Regions from separate parts of the Homo sapiens genome. Here region 2 is linked to region 1. The links come from fine-mapping of genetic effects on gene expression. A gene starts in region 1. The other region holds a variant in brackets. All regions are shown on one strand. Distances are from middle to middle. Region 1 holds the start of BET1L (Bet1 golgi vesicular membrane trafficking protein like). Region 2 overlaps PSMD13 (proteasome 26S subunit, non-ATPase 13).

What was found. PIP is the estimated chance that this variant, and not a neighbour inherited with it, causes the effect.
Region 2: its variant is the best candidate, but not a certain one, in a credible set for the expression of BET1L in whole blood (TOPMed, PIP 0.82).

The regions. Positions count from the first base shown.
Region 1 is chr11:206,322-209,113 of GRCh38, forward strand. BET1L (Bet1 golgi vesicular membrane trafficking protein like) reads right to left here and starts at 1,078. Exons shown (of 4, transcript NM_001098787.2): 1 at 982-1,078. The coding sequence starts at 1,000. It overlaps RIC8A (RIC8 guanine nucleotide exchange factor A), which reads left to right and starts at 1,387. Exons shown (of 10, transcript NM_001286134.2): 1 at 1,387-2,617. The coding sequence starts at 2,534. RefSeq lists enhancers at 304-805, 1,352-1,973, 1,829-1,998, 1,974-2,593, 2,668-2,792 and silencers at 750-809, 920-1,039, 2,101-2,299, 2,300-2,589, 2,660-2,769.
Region 2 is chr11:243,897-246,688 of GRCh38, forward strand. PSMD13 (proteasome 26S subunit, non-ATPase 13) reads left to right here. Exons shown (of 13, transcript NM_002817.4): 3 at 145-179; 4 at 265-320; 5 at 530-573; 6 at 779-865. Among named protein-coding and RNA genes, the nearest start is that of PSMD13, 8.3 kb to the left of the region's middle. The variant C/T (reference allele first, on the strand shown) is at 1,369.

The DNA of each region.
Region 1 (2,792 bases):
GGACCCAGCCCTGGGGTGCTAGTATGATGTGACACTTGCATCCAGGGAGGTCACCATCTGTGTATGTGGAGCCCATTCTTATAGAAAAAGAGTAAACTCTGCTAAGAGCATAGAAAAGACTTGGGAAAAGTACCCAGCAAGGCAGCAGAAAGGCTCCTGCAGAGACGACCTTTGAGCTAGGTCCTGAAGAGGTGGCAAGGAACCAGGACAGAACATTGGGAAGGCCCTTTACCGCACAGAAAATGGCTGAGCAAAGTTCCCAATTTCCCCGAGACGGGAGCTGAGGTCGACCAGGAGCGGGATCCTTGGTCTGCATCCCGCATGGGGCTTCCTGCAACACCCAGGGCAGAGTGCTCGCAGAGGCCTGGCCTGTGACAGGCTGGGCCAGGGGATAAGGAAGTTCTGTCACATCAGGTGCGTGAGAACCACCTCCTCCCTAGCTTCAGTGTCAGGAAGGGATGCCAGCGTCCTTCCAGCCACTTCATATTTATAAATTCCTTTAATCATCATAACACCTCACAGAGACAGGCATCAATATCCCACTTTGCAGACAAGAACACGGGCTCCAGGAGGGGAAATGGGGCCACCGAGGCCAAAGTAAGAGTCCTGCTTGGACACCAGCGGAGCACAGCCTCTACTCCTAGGGCCTGGCCTCGGGACCTGTCGAATGCCGACTCCCGCTCACCCCGAACCCATGCAGAACGATCTCACAGGGGGCGGCGGGGAGTGGGGAGACCCCGCTGCTGCGCGACCCCTCGCTGGAGCTGCTGGGCCGCCACGCGCGCCTTCGGTCCTAACGGCAGTGCCGGCCGAAACCCGGCCCTGCTCGGACCCGGAAGGATCCGAATCCGCCCCCCTGACAGGGTCCTCTCGGCCGAGGTCACCCCAGCTGGGCCAGAGGCAGGCGCACGCGGCTCTACAGGCAGCGGCGTCGGTTTCGGCCCGGCCCTGCCCCCAACGGCTCCGCTCTCCCGCGCTCACCCCGAGCCCAGTCCGCCATCGTGCCCTGCCCCGGCTCCTCGACGCGGACACCGACGCGGCCACAGCCGCCTCAGACGTGGCGCAGTCGCGGGGAAAGAGCTTCCGGCCCCGCCCCCAGCTAGCGATGGCCCCGCCTCCGCACCGACCACGCCCCTAGATAGCCCAGCCCCTTCCGCTTCGGGCTCGCTGACTTCCGGCTTAGGGCCGAGGGTGGGGAACTGCCGGGCGCGGAAGCGATGGGCATATCTGTGGCTTATTTTCAGCACTGTCGCGCAGACAGTGGCGCGATCTCAGCTCACTGCAGCCCCCGCCTGCCGGGCTCCCAAGGTGCTGGGATTACAGCAGCACCGCGGATGTGACGTTTGGTGTTCCTGTGAACGTGGGGCGGGGCGGGGCCGTTTGCTTGCTCAGTGCCTAGACGATGGTGGTGGAAAGACGCTTCTGTGGGTTAGGTCCTAACGGTTAGGAAGGATTCACAGGCGGGTCATGAGGAAGGAGCAGACCCCTCGGGCAGAAGCCCGCGAGGAGCACTGGGTGTGGTGGGGGCAGGGGTGCCTCCTCTGTCAAGTGGAGATCGGCGCCTCGCTCGTGCCTGCGAGTGCGCGCCGCGTCGAATACAGCCGTACAGAACGCACTACAGGAAAGTGAAGCCGGGAGAGAGACTGGGAGGCGGCGCGGGGACTGGGGGCCGTAGACGCCTTTGCTCCCGGGCACTTGTTAGAAGAGCGAGTGGATCGCGCTTCCTGTGCGTCACTGAATCCTCATGACGGCCACTGAAACGGACACGCAGGATCTTTGCTTTTCAAGAGGGAACTGAGTCCAGGCCAGACTGGGTTGCTCCCCTTTCTCTCGGCCCCTCCACCTTTGCAAGTGCTGCTCCTTCTGCCTGGAGTGGCTCCTCCAGTCTTTTCCCGGCTCACTTCCCACCGTCCGGTGTCAGCAAAAACAGCACTTCCTCACAGCCCGTTGCAGCCCAGCAGTCGCCTTTTGCTTCTTTTGAAGCACAGCCCTGTGACCGCCTCGTGTCCTTTTGTTTTTCCTTGTCCCCCTTCCCCTCTGGAACATAAGCTCCACAAAGGCAGGGACCTGGGAATCCCGTTCGCCTGCATTCCCCAGCAAACGCCTAACGAACCCAATGGCCCAGGACTGAAAATTCCTTTCCACTTCGGCTTTCCCCTCTACATCCCATCGGTTCTGTGGAGCTCGAGGGGCGTCACTGTGTGTGTGGCAGGGCACGGTGGGGGCTGAGATCGTTTCCTGTTGGAACTTCTGGCCCAAGAAGCGCGGGTCACAAGGAGAGGGGTCAGTTCGGTTCAGAGCGACTCAGCCCCTCGACTCGGGTCTTAAAACCTCCGAGCCGCCAGTTCTGCCTCAGGCCGCGCCCCCTTAAAGCGCCACCAGACGCTGCGCCCCGTTAAAGCGCCACCAGACGCCGCGCCCCGTCCCGGCCTCCCCCGCGCGCTGGCGCGGGGCTTTCTGGGCCAGGGCGGGGCCGGCGAACTGCGGCCCGGAACGGCTGAGGAAGGGCCCGTCCCGCCTTCCCCGGCGCGCCATGGAGCCCCGGGCGGTTGCAGAAGCCGTGGAGACGGGTGAGGAGGATGTGATTATGGAAGCTCTGCGGTCATACAACCAGGAGGTAAGCGGCCGCCTGAGGCCGGGGGGCGGGCACGGAGGGGGTGGGGCAGGGTCGTGCGCGGGTAGCAGGGAGGGCGTGGGTGAGGCAGAGGCTGTGTCAGCAAGCGTAGGGGACGCGGCGGGGTGCGGGGGGCAGGTCTGGGATGCAGTGTTGCGGGGAGAGTGGGGGTGCACCC
Region 2 (2,792 bases), 38 kb after region 1:
CTTACTGTGTGCTGGGCACTGTGGCTTGCACACTCCCAACTTGATAGCATTGATGCAGCTTCTTTACCAAAGATAGTGTTTGGGGTCTTCGTTTTGCAGAATAAAAGACATCCTATAATTTCTCTCCATGTTTTGGTTTCACAGCTTTATGAAAACTTTATCAGTGAATTTGAACACAGGTAAAAGCCTCTCATCCGTTTTTCACTTTGAAAATGAGTGCATTGATGCTCGGCGGTGCTCAAAGGCTGGTGGCTTTTATTTCAGGGTGAACCCTTTGTCCCTCGTGGAAATCATTCTTCATGTAGTTAGACAGATGACTGGTAAGTCTCACTTTGTTTTATAAAGGAGCAGATCCAAATGGTGGTTAAAATTGAAATATAAGTTAACTGAACTTTTGTGTTTTCTGTATCAGATATTATGTTTTTATTATACTTTATGGTCAAAACCTAAAGATTACCCTACCTAAGGGTGTCTTGGTTAGCAGAAACCAGTCTGTTGATGGTCCTTCTGATTGTTCCTTCTTTTCCAGATCCTAATGTGGCTCTTACTTTTCTGGAAAAGACTCGTGAGAAGGTAAATGTGGCATGTGGGCAATACCTTTTAGTACCTTTTAGAGTATGTATGACTTAACAGCTTGTGTTCATGCTCACTGTCCAGACCTTTAGAGACCACAAGGCCTCTAGTCATCAAGGTTAAGTTAATGTACAAGTAGCTAGCTTCCTTTGTTAGTCAACTGCCCACATTCTGAGGTTTCTTGTTTTTGTTTTTGATGTCTTAGGTGAAAAGTAGTGATGAGGCAGTGATCCTGTGTAAAACAGCAATTGGAGCTCTAAAATTAAACATCGGGGACCTACAGGTTACAAAGGTGAGATCACCATAATACAGATTTATCTTTGGTTTAAAATTATTTAAAACCCTAGGAAAAAAAATAACCTATTTTTCTTCTTTACTGTTTATTTTAAAACATTTTTACATTACAGAAAAGTTGCAAAAATAACACAAAGAACTACTATACCCCAACCTAAATTTCCCATTGCAAACCTTTTTTTTTTTTTTTTTTTAAAGACGGAGTCTCGCTCTGTTTCCCAGGCTGGAGTGCAATGGTGCAATCTCGGCCCACCGCAACCTCCGCCTCACGGGTTCAAGCAATTCTCCTGCCTCAACCTCCTGAGTAGCTGGAATTACAGGCGCGTGCCTCCCTGCCCGGCTAATTTTTTTGTATTTTTAGTAGAGACAGGGTTTCGCCATGTTGGCCAGGCTGGTCTGGAACTCCTGACCTCAAGTGATCCCTCTGCCTCAGCCTCCCAAAGTGCTGGGATTACAGCCGTGAGCCGCTGCGCCCAGCCCCCCCGATTGCTAACCTTTTAC[C/T]GCTTTTGCCTTTGTGTGTGTCTGTAGCTTTTTTCCAAAACCACTTAGGAGTAAGTTGCTGATACAATGCCTGTTGCCCTTAAACAAAAGAGCACTCCCCTGTGTGACCACAGCACATCCGTCTAATAATGACTCCACATGGCCTCAGTCAGCCCAAAGCACATTGGTTCTCCCTGACCAAGGTCAGCCTACACACCACTGGCATGTCACGTGCTATTTCTCCATCTTCCTTCTGCCTCCTAAATGTTGTTGAAGTATCCTGTCTATTTTTATGTCTTTCTTATGTTCAATTATGTTTTGGTGCAGTTGGGAGACAGGTATGGATGTGGGTGGCAGTGAAACCGACATGTGGCTGGTCCACCTGGTTGAACCAGAACGTGTGTGTGTGTGTGTGTGTGTGTGTGTGTGTGTGTGTGTTTGCATGTGTGTTCGTGTGTTTGTGTGTGTTTGTGTGTGTGTGTTTGTGTGTGTGTGTGTTTGCTAATCACAATGTTAAAGAAAATATTGGGGGTAAGGGTTAAAGTGTTCATGTCCTCATTGCCCTGAAAAGATACTTTTTATTGTTTATTGTCAGTCCTAACCCATATGCATACTTAGTGCATTTTATTTTCAAATATTTTAAGACATATTGAAAGCTATAAGTCACAGTACAGAATGCTGTAATAGGCATCCATGTGCCCCAACCAGCTTAGGAAGGAATGAAGCCACACGGCACAGTCAGGGTCCCAGTACCCTTCAGACCACACTTCTCCCCCAGCCAGGCTCCCTCTCATGCCCATGCATTTCCTTGTCCTTCATTAAATAGGGGTGTGTAACTCAAGCGTTTTAACATTGGCTCAATACTAGGTTTCAGAGTCATGTGGGTATGTGTAACCAATGTGCTGTTACTCCTATACGGTATTTCATTGTATAAGTGTTTCACAACATATGTATCCAGTCTCCTATTGAAGAGATTTAGGGCCAGGTGCGATGGTCACACCTGTAATCCCAGCACTTTGGGAGGCTGAGGCAGGTGGATCACAAGGTCAGGAGTTCAAGACCAACCCAGCCAAGATGGTAAAACCCCGTCTCTACTAAAACCACAAAAATTAGCCGGGCATGGTGGCGGGCGCCTGTAGTCCCAGCCACTCGGGAGGCTGAGGCAGCGAATTGCTTCAGCCTGCAAGGCGGAGGTTGCAGTGAGCCGAGATCGCACCACTGCACTACAGCTTGGGCAACAGAGCGAGACTCTGTCTCAAAAAAAAAGGGAGATTTAGGTTGTTTTTTTTACTATCACAAACAGTACTGCCATAAGTATTTCTGTGCCTGGTCCCTTGTGTGTGGGCAGAATCTCACCAAGATGTATGCCTAGAGACTACAGGTACAAGCTGTGTGCATCTCTGCCTTTCCCAGATACATGCTCCCTCAGCACCATATGAGTACTC